Regions from separate parts of the Homo sapiens genome. Here region 1 is linked to region 2. The links come from fine-mapping of genetic effects on gene expression. A gene starts in region 2. The other region holds a variant in brackets. All regions are shown on one strand. Distances are between the middles of the regions.

Region 1 (5,327 bases), 85 kb after region 2:
CACAGCCCCCATCCCCAGATCAGGACTCCATCTTGCTAAGTGGCATCACCGTCACCAGCCTCCCCTTATTTAAAAGCAGCGACTGGTGTTGCCGCAGGTACCTGGTCTACGAAGACGCAGGCATCCCTCTCCCACCGTCCACCTCCCCGGGGGCCGCTGACAGCACAGTCGCCTGGGTGCACGCTTGTGGGGGCAGCAGGAACGGGGCTGTCGGCTCTCAGGGGATCTGGCTGCAGCCAGGGCGAGGGCCTGGCCCTTCCTTCCAGCTCCTTCCGGCTCCTTCCAGCTGAAGGGCAGGAAGCTCTGGCCGCTTAGCTTCTAGGGTTCCATCTCCCTAGAAAGGTGCCCACGCCCAGGGCATCAGTCAGTAGCGGCAGCAGCAGCAGACTCGGGGCTTTCCCAGGGTGGCGCAGCCACCCCAGCTGCATGTCACCTCAGCTCTCCATCTTATTGCCATTTTGTAGATGAGGAAGCTGAGACCAGAAAGGCTAAGACCCATGCCCCAGGCACCACACCCATCTCTTGGGGGCTGGGCACCTGCTACCCGAGGCCACCTCCTGAAGCCCCCACTCTTCCCCCATGTTCCACTTCAGGAGCCGCGGGGGCCCATCCTGACACCCGGGGTTCCTCAGCCCAGCGCAGATGTGCTTCAGTTCCAGAGGGCTTGTTGATTTGTTTCTTAGGTACGTTACCTGTCCACCCTGAGTCCAGTGAGGCTGTCCCAAGAGCCCCTGTAGTGTGCTCCTGGGAAGGGCTGGGGGGGCTGGGGGGGCTGGGAGAGGCCCAGGGGCAGCTGTCACTGGAACCCCAGCCAGATGTCCAAGGAAGCCGGCCAGAACACGGAGCAGCCAGATGGCCCCAGCTGCACCTGTCTAGGGAGCCCATGCAGCCTCCTTGCACTGGAGAAGCAGCTGTGAAAGTAGACAGAGTTGAGACTTCGCCGTGGTCAGGAGAAAATGCAAATTCCCAGGAACAAGAATCCTTTAAGTGATATGTTTTTATAAAACTAAACAAATCAACAAATAAATCTTGAAGGCGGATGGTTTTCCCAGCAGTGCAGGGGTTGGAGGGAGGCTGCTGGCACTCCTGGGGCCAAGGGGGACAGGCAGTGGTCCTGAGTCTGCTCAGAGAGGCAAGGCAGAAGGAGCTCGCCAGGCAGGTCAGCTCACATCTGTCCAAGTCGCTCTGGTCAGAAACAGCGACTCTCCCCCATTCCCCCAGCGTTCCCACCAGGCCTGGGCTGCTGGGAAGCCCTTGCTGTACCCAGGAGCCCGACCCGCAGTATCCTGGCACAGAGCCACTTGTCACTCAGAACAGTCAGTGTCTCCAACGCACAAACATCCACTCCTCTGTTACCAGTTAAAGCACTTTAATGCTTTAAGGTGAAAACGAAATCCCATCCGTGTTTTTCGTGTAAGATCGTGCTTCTCCGAGCAGTATTAATGGACGCCCTCCAATGACATAACAACTGTTTTTGGTAATGTAATCTTGGGAAAATGTGTTATTTTTTTAGCTGTGTTTCAGTGGGGATTTTTGTTTTTGTAACATAATAAAGTGTATGTTCCAATGACCGGTTCTCATGACTCAACCTAAATCTCCAAAGGGCTCAGACAAACAGGGCGGCTCCTCACAGGCAGGAAGCCCGTGGCCTCTGTGGCCGGCCCTGGCACCCCACTTGAGTTTCTCTGTGTCGTGAGTCTGATGGGTCCCTGGGGTGTCCCTCTGCCCTGTGCCTCGGAGGACCTGCGGGCCAAGCCGAGTAGCCTCATGGGACTGACCGGGCCTCTCAGGCCTCCTGAAGTACAGGCCCATGAGCCCTCATCCAAGCCCTGTGGGGCCCAGGCCTTCTGGACTTTAGCTAGGCCAAGCAGGGTCTCAGGGCGTCACAAACACCGACACAGAACGCACTCCCGTTTCTCAGCAAAACCTAAGAAAACAAAAGGCAGCAGAGAGCCTCATGTTGGCTCAAGCCAGGCTGAGACCAACGGGCTTCATTTCAGTTCTCTTGGTTCTCAGGTTTCTTGGTTTCAGAGTTGTGAACAGGGACTAGGGACTTGTCACAGCAAAAACAAGGCTCTAGAAATCTGTTCAACCTTGAAGGAGGCCTCAGTCTTTTTAGAAATTGGCCTAAAACAAAGATAGAAAGGACCAAGGCAAGAGGGGGAGATGCCGCCAGGAAGCTCCGCCGAGTTCCCCCACAGGTGAGGTGCCATGCCAAGCCCTGGCCCCA[T/C]CTTCCTGGCTAGCGCTCACGCCGTCACACCAGAGCCCGCCCACCCCTTTCCCTAGGCTCCTACCTGTCCCCACGTCCACCAAGGAGGGCTGGGCGGTGGTGGGCCCACCCCCTCATAGCCGCAGGACTCTGGATCATGAAGGTGTTGAGGCCTCAAACTAGACAGGAAGTGGAGGGATTCTGGATGTTCCCTCGGCAAGAGGGTGCCACATAGAACGTAGAAACGGGGACTCTAAAACGCCCTTTCAGGAATGAACACAGAAATGTGAGTGCTTTCAGCACAAGGGTGAGTTTGAATATCTTTGTTTAAAAGGTTAGTTATTTTTTTTAAGTATAGCGTGAGAAATACAGGCCATTATTTTCAAATATATAAAAACATCTCCAGTAAGTTCCACACAGAATTTTGGAAAGCTAAGCTGGACTCAGAGCAGGTCTGCTGCTCCCCAAGGCACTACCCTTCGAAGGAAGGTTTCCACCCGCCCCCGGCTGCAAAATGGAAAGGAGAAAGCCCGTTTCCAAAAGGTCTCCACGCCCCTTTGGGTGGAAAACAGCCACTGTTCATTCCCGCGTTCACATCCAAAGAGGAAGCCTAGATTCAGGTGACAAGAACAGAATATGGGCTTTTCATACCACACACATATATTTCCTATTTCTCAGGAATGGTGCTGTGTCATTACTATGCACAAAATCGGATTCTTCAAGAAAATTGTTTTTTAGGCCGAGCATGGTGGCTCACGCCTGTAATCCCAGCACTTTGGGAGGCCATGGCAGGTGGATCACGAGGTCAGTAGTTCGAGACCAGCCTGGCCAACATGGTGAAATCCCATCTCTACTAAAAATACAAAAATTAGCCGAGCGTGGTGGCACACGCGTGTAATCCCAGCTACTCAGAAGGCTGAGGCAGAAGAATCGCTTGAACCTGGGAGACGGAGGTTGCAGTGAGCCGAGATCGCACCATTGCACTCCAGCCTGGGTGACAGGGCAAGACTCCATCTCAAAACAAACAAAAAAAAATGTTTTTAAATACTGGTGTAATTACCCCAAAAAAGGCCTAAGGAGGCCTGCAGCCCGCCTCATGCATGCGACATTTAGCCTTAACAGCTTCACCAGCCCTCGGCCCTGTTTGCCACAGAAAAGCTGAAACCGCAGGTTTCTGAGTCAATTTACACCGCCCAATCCCTGACCTGCCCTCTTCCTGAGAGAGCCAACCAGAGGCCTCCAAGGCCCTGCCAAGGGAACTCTGACCGGAAGAGCATCTCTGAGGCCTGCGCACAACACAAAACACCTAAGCAAGCCCAACTTGTGTCCTTGGTCTGAAGTCCCATCCTGAAAAGCCTGGTTAAACCAGAAATGAAACATACATGGTTTCCCAATGCTTCCCCTTCTGAGTCTCCAGTGAGGACAAGATTGCCATGAGGTTTTGTCTCCCTCTCCCAGTAACAGTAACAAGTGAAACAGGCAACTGGATATCAGGCAGGATCTTGGCTCCAGCCTCGAGTTGGTTCACGGAGCTTCTGTCTTCACCACGGAGGCCTCTGCCGATTCGCAGGGCAGGTCCACAGCTGACCGGTTTCACCACGACTGCTCCACGGCCACGGTCACCCGGAAGGCCCTGAGGAACTGCTCTTTGGTGATTTCAGGAGGTTATTTCCCTGCACATTTGCACAGATTCAGGACAAAACCCAACACTGCGGAGCCAGACAGTCTTCCTCTTGTTGGGGCATGTGAAGGGGCCACTGGCCTCTGGGTGGGACACTGATCCTAGAGAGGCCCACCTGCCCCTCTTGGACAAGCCCCACCCAGGTCCAGGAATTCTGCTCAACCTCTCTGGTTCCCAGTCACCCCCAGGACTGACAGAGGGTAGAAAGTGTCCTATCTTCCAGGATACATGGTATCCACTAGATCTCAGGAGTTCAGAAGTAGTTATTTTATAAACTCAGAGTTTAAGAAGATTTCTCAGGACGTGTCAGGCAACATGGTACACGCACAGAACCCCAAAGGAGCATCTCTCAGAATCTCCCTCAAGTACACGCAACGTAAATGATCACTGAGATGGACAATTTCAAATCTGAACCCGGTATCTGGAATGCAATTTTCCACCTGAAATTGGCATATCATCTGCACTGACTGCAGCCTGGAAGGCATCTACCCATTGAGCATCAGGACATCCCAGGTTCCTCCTGAAAACGTCACCCACCTTTAAGGGTTCTGACAAAGTGTCTGAAGAGCTCTCGATAGGAGTCCTGGTAGCGGCTAGCCTGGGTCTGGGAGCGAAGGGACAGGGACATGCCCCGCCCGGTGATGCCCAAGGAATTCTGATTCTCCATCTGCAGCACGCCTTGGGACCCACACACCCAGCTAACGACCTCTATCTAACCTGCGGAATCAACCCGGCTGACGACCTCTATCTAACCCGTACAATCAACCCAGCTGATGACCTCTATCTAACCCATACAATCAACCCAGCTGATGACCTCTATCTAACCCACACAATCAACCCAGCTGATGACCTCTATCTAACCCACACAATCAACCCAGCTGATGACCTCTATCTAACCCACACAATCAACCCAGCTGATGACCTCTATCTAACCCACACAATCAACCCAGCTGATGATCTCTATCTAACCCACACAATCAACCCAGCTGATGACCTCTATCTAACCCGCAGAATCAACCCAGCTGATGACCTCTGTCTAACCCACACAATCAACCCGGCTGACGACCTCTATCTAACCCACATAGTCAACCCAGCTGATGACCTCTATCTAACCTGCAGAATCAACCCAGCTGATGATCTCTATCTAACCCGCACAATCAACCCGGCTGATGACCTCTATCTAACCCGCACAATCAACCCGGCTGATGATCTCTAACCCGCACAATCAACCCAGCTGATGACCTCTATCTAACCTGTAGAATCAACCCGGCTGATGACCTCTATCTAACCCGCACAATCAACCCAGCTGACGACCTCTATCTAACCCACACAATCAACCCAGCTGATGATCTCTATCTAACCCACACAATCAACCCAGCTGATGACCTCTATCTAACCCGCACAATCAACCCGGCTGATGATCTCTATCTAACCCGC
Region 2 (5,305 bases):
GCCGCCGGCTTCCGCGCGGCATTGTGGGGCTTGTAGTTCTTGTGCCGCAGGGCTTTAAAGGAAACGCCCACGTTTCTTCCGACCAGGGATTTCCGACCCGAGAACCTTACCTCAAAGGCCGGGAGGCCTTTGAGCACCTCCAGCTAGGGCTGCTGATAAAAATGTAGAAAGCACAGTAAAATTTGAATTTCAGATTCACAACAAATCTAGTTATAAGTATGTTCCCAAATATTGCACGGGACATGCTAATACGGAAAAATTACTCGCTAGTCTGAAATTCAAATTTAATTGAGCGACCTGTGTGTCTGCGTGTGTGTACACATGCATATATATATATTTATATTTATATGTAAATGTATGTTTACATGTAAATATATGTTTACCTACAAATATATCTTTAATAAGTAATACGGTGTCTGTCGCACATATATTATATCGTGTATGTAATGTATAAGTATTTATTTCGTTTGCTTGGGGTTTTGTTTGCTTTTGCTGAGTCCGACCCCTCTACCTGCCGCCTGGCCCTTGCCTCACGCTCCAGTGCCACTGAGATCAAGGAGAGAACGAATTTGCCGCTGACTGGGCAGAGCGAGCGCGTGGATCGCGGCCACCGCCCGTTCATCACCCGCGCGCATCTGGGCTGGCACCGGGCGAAGAATCGTGCGGGTCTGGGACCTGGGGGCCCAGAGGGAGCGAGCTCCTGCGCGGGCGCTCGGTCCGCAGGTTTCGCAGGCTCAGGGGCGTGCCTCGTTCTCACCCCCACTCCGGACCCCGGTCCTCTTCCCTAGACAGCGGCCCCCTCCACCCCTGGCTCCCGCAGGCCGCTAGTAGTCCGCGCCAGGCCCCGCCGGCGCCTCTAGGGCCCCCCAGATCGCGCAGACCCTGACATCCCCGCCTGGCCCTGGGTTCTGGGAGCTGAGAGCCGGCCAGGGTCCTGCTCGTACCTCCGGGCGCCCAGCCTCGGGTCTGCTCCCCGCGGACGCCCCAACCTCCCCGGCCGAATGGATGGTGGTGCGCGCGCGTCCTACTCCGGCGGTGCCGGCCTTTTCTGTTGCCAAAACTAGACCCAAACCTCTGCATGGGATTCGTCTTTGGGTCCCCACCCCGTGCGCCCAGCAAACAGTGGGTGAGCCATGAAGATGTGCGAGTCAGCCGGACCCTCCCCGTCAGGCGCGGACCCGCTGCGGCCAGAGAACCCAGTCTGCGCCAGCCCGGCTCGCTCGCGAAGCCACGGGCTTCACTGACGCGACTTTCCAAGACGTGGGGGTCACCATGGGCAGAGGACATCGGTTCGGAGCCAGATCACGGGCCCCATAAGCATCAGACCATAAGCAGCGCCGCCACTGAGAGCCGCTCGGAACTCGCCCAGCATGTCGGGTCCCCTAGCCAGGGCCTGGTGTACGTGGTCGAGGGCCCTGGAAGCCCCGATGGCCTAGGAGGAGCAGGCGGGCGGGGCGGCGGGTGTCGCTGGCCGGTAGAGAGCTTCGGCCTGACCTAGCGCAGGTCTGGTGCGCGCAGAGAACAACTCCAAGCGCACCGACGCCCGCGAGCTCCTTCCAAACACCGAACGGGATCCAGAGCCCGAGCCCACAGGCGGCGGCCGGGGGAGGGAGCAGGGTGCTGGCCGCCGCCCGGGAGTGTTCGCGTCCTGGGTGACCCCTGGAAGGACGTGGGGCCCAAACTCCGGCTGGGGTTGGGAGAGCAGCCCCCAGAGGCTCTCCGCGGGATCCTCTGCCGGGCGGGACCGTGGCTCCACAGGAGAAGTGGGTGGCAAGCCCTGCTTGGCGGAAAGCAGCCGTTCCCCTCCTCCTGGGCCTGGGGCGGCGCCCCTCACCCCTGTTCCCCGCCCCTCACCCCTGTTCCCCGCCGGCCACATCCCCTGCCCCTTGGATTCCAAGCGCCCCGCGCGCCGAGGAGCCCAGCGCTAGTGGCGGCGGCCAGGAGAGACCCGGGTGTCAGGAAAGATGGGCCGTCTGGGGGACAGCAGGGAGTCCGGGGGAAACGCAGGCGTCGGGCACAGAGTCGGCACCGGCGTCCCCAGCTCTGCCGAAGATCGCGGTCGGGTCTGGCCCGCGGGAGGGGCCCTGGCGCCGGACCTGCTTCGGCCCTGCGTGGGCGGCCTCGCCGGGCTCTGCAGGAGCGACGCGCGCCAAAAGGCGGCGGGAAGGAGGCGGGGCAGAGCGCGCCCGGGACCCCGACTTGGACGCGGCCAGCTGGAGAGGCGGAGCGCCGGGAGGAGACCTTGGCCCCGCCGCGACTCGGTGGCCCGCGCTGCCTTCCCGCGCGCCGGGCTAAAAAGGCGCTAACGCCCGCGGCCGCCTACTCCCCGCGGCGCCTCCCCTCCCCGCGCCCATATAACCCGCCTAGGGGCCGGGCAGCCCGCCCTGCCTCCCCGCCCGCGCACCCGCCCGGAGGCTCGCGCGCCCGCGAAGGGGACGCAGCGAAACCGGGGCCCGCGCCAGGCCAGCCGGGACGGACGCCGATGCCCGGGGCTGCGACGGCTGCAGGTAGGAGGCCCAGGGCCGGGGGGCGGTTCGGCTCCGCGGGCGGGGGCTGGAGCGCAGCGCTGGGCAGGCACCTGGGCTCGCAGCTCCGAAGCTGGGAGGTGAGGGGAGAGCGATCGGGGACGAGCTGGGACAAGGCGACACAGGGGCTCCCTCGGAGTTGGATCGGCCCCTGGGACTTGGCGCTCGCGAGAGGCTGGAGCGGCCAGAGTCTAGCCTGCGAGGAGACGCGGGTCCTGCCCTCAGCGCCGGCCGCCTTTGGCGCCAAAGACAGCCCCGCAGGGGTTCCGGGAGGGCCCTCCTCCTGCTGTCCCCTCTCCACCCCGGGCTCCGAGGGCCGTTGGGAGGGTAACCCCGGGAAGAGGCCGGGGTGCGGGGCGCGGGTGCAGGTGGAAATCGCCAGCAAGCTCCTCCCCGCCCGCGCGCTCCCTCCGACCTGCAGGGCTGTGCCAATCCCGAGGCCTCAGCTTCCCTGAGGAGCCAGGGCCAGGCCCCCCTCTGGACAGGGAGAAGGATCTGGGCGGGGGCCTTGACCCATGGAGTTGGTTACTAAGCGGTTTCGATGGTTTCCCGAGGGACAGCTCCCTGTGGCTCTGAGTTTGTCTGTCGAGGGCTCCTGGCCTGTCTCCGGAGCGGTCCCAGGTAGAGAAAGCCCGTGAAGAAATGGCCCGGGCCGGCCTGGAGGGAGACACCTCACGCCCCCTTAGCTCCTGGGCCGCCTCCTCCTGCAGCCCCTGCCTTTCCCGGGGCTTGGACTTGGGGAGCGATGATTACCTTTGCTCAGCTTGTATTTTGGCCTGGACGCTAGGAGATAAGCCCATGTAGTATGCACACGTCTGCTACATAAACAGGGGACAGATAGACGATCTTCAACCAGCAAGGGTGCAGGGAAAAGCAATGCACCCCAAACTTCTGACCAGAGGTCATTTGCTTCCAAAGATGCTGCCATCTGTTTATTCACTGTCTGGACATTTGGAAATGGCTCAGGCTCATTAACACAATGCTTTGGTTTTTGTTGTTTTGTTTTTTGTTGCTGTCATTGCTGTTTATTTGTTCAGCCTTAGCTCTGGGGGAGGAGTAAACAAAGCGCGTGGCCTCTGGCACTTACTGAGCGCTGAGCCACCCCTCTTTGGATTTATTCGGGGAAAGATTAAAAAGCATTTCATTAAGAACAGGACACGGTGTTTGAAATGTTGCCATATATGAATGTATGCATTACGTATGTAGTTTTTAAAATAAGATAAAAAGTTGGCTGGGCACGGTAGCTCACGCCTGTCATCCCTCACAGCCTTTGGGAGGCCAAGGTGGGTGGATCACCTGAGGTCAGGAGTTCGAGACCAGCCTGGCCATCATGGTGAAACCCAGTCTCTACTTGAAATACAAAAATTAGCTGGGCATGGTGGCAGGCACCTGTACTCCCAGCTACTCGGGAGGCTGAGGCACAAGAATTGCTTGAACCTGGGATGGAGAGGTTGCAGCGAGCTGATATCATGCCACTGCACTCCAGCCTGGGCAACAGAGCAAGACTCTGTCTCAAAAAATAAGATGAAATAAGATAAAAGTTGGTGTCAGAGGCTGCAGTGTGGCAGCTGCCTATTGTCAATCAGAGGTAGCCTGGGGTGAACGGAAGGCGGACCTGAGCGGGGCTTGTCTATGCGCGGCGGCCACCAGAGAATGGCTCGGGATGTGAGCCCTGCCTTGCAGTCCTTCTCGTGAAAGCTACAGCGAACAGTAGCTGTCTCCAAATCCCGAAGGCCAGTCGCATGGAGAAGCTGGTCTGGCACAGTGGTTAATGGGGTAGTATGGAAGTCAGAATGCTGGGGTTCAAATCTCCTCTTCCCCATTTACTCCAGCAAGTCACTTAACCACTTGGAGCCTCAGGTTACCCATCTGCAGAGTCGGGTAATAGTAGTTCCTGCCTCAGAGGCTTGGAGAACAGTCAGTGAGGTGCCGTCCGAAGGGCTTGGGAGAGTGCCTGGCACCCACTCAGTGTCCTCACACATGATGGCTTCGGGTCCCAGGTGCTGTTCCAGAGCTGGGAGAGCCAGGAGCCCTGGGGAGAGACCCGGCTCCTTAGTATCTGGTAGGTATCTCCAGGGCAGGAGGGATGGCAGTGAGGCAGGCATCTGCCCAAGGCGTGGGTGGAAGCTGATGGCATCTGTCAGAAGTATGCACTGGGGCAAGGATGCCTGGTTTAGTATTTATTTATAGGGCATGCCCCACCCAGGTCCAAGAATGGATTGATAACACTGAGCACGTGTGAAAGGCACGGCTAAAGTGGAGAGAAGAGAAGAGGCTGAGGGCCGAGAGAGGAGCCGCACACCCACTCCAGAACCCGGACGAGGCCCTGCCCTTGCCCAGCGGCGGTATTAACCCTGAGATTCCGAGCACACCAAAGTGACATCGCGTACACGGTGAACCCTGTGTTTGCAAAAAGTCAGAAAAAGTCTTCAAAACATCCTTTAAGGCCAGGCGCCGTGGCCCACGCCTGTAATCTCAGCCCTTTGGGAGGCCGAGGTGGGTGGATCACTTGAGATCAGGAGTTCAAGACCAGCCTGGGCAAAATGGTGAAATCTTGTCCCCACCAAAAATACAAAAATTAGCCGGGGGTGGTGTCTGGTGCCTGTAGTCTCAGCTACTCAGGAGGCTGAGGCAGGAGAATCGCTTGAACTTGGGAGGCAGAGGTTGCAGTGAGCCGAGATCACCCCACTGCACTCCAGCCCGGGCAACAGAGCGAGACTCTGTCTCAAAAAAACACGCAAAAAATACTTTTGGTGTGTGTTTCATGTAACGAGCTGCCA

Direction of the effects. Alleles are on the strand shown, and positions count from the first base shown. SD is a standard deviation of normalised expression in the study named.
For the expression in testis of the gene that starts at base 2,382 in region 2, allele C in region 1 goes with a higher level than allele T (small effect, 0.33 SD a copy in GTEx).

The links. PIP is the estimated chance that this variant, and not a neighbour inherited with it, causes the effect. A credible set is the group of variants that fine-mapping cannot tell apart.
Region 1: its variant is the best candidate, but not a certain one, in a credible set for the expression of TP73 in testis (GTEx, PIP 0.72).

What each region holds. Positions count from the first base shown.
Region 1 is chr1:3,734,632-3,739,958 of GRCh38, forward strand. It overlaps TP73 (tumor protein p73), which reads left to right. Exons shown (of 14, transcript NM_005427.4): 14 at 1-1,570. It also overlaps the pseudogene GFOD3P. Among named protein-coding and RNA genes, the nearest start is that of CCDC27, 15 kb to the right of the region's middle. The variant T/C (reference allele first, on the strand shown) is at 2,231.
Region 2 is chr1:3,650,135-3,655,439 of GRCh38, forward strand. TP73 (tumor protein p73) reads left to right here and starts at 2,382. Exons shown (of 14, transcript NM_005427.4): 1 at 2,382-2,507. RefSeq lists an enhancer at 190-1,033 and a silencer at 1,993-2,942.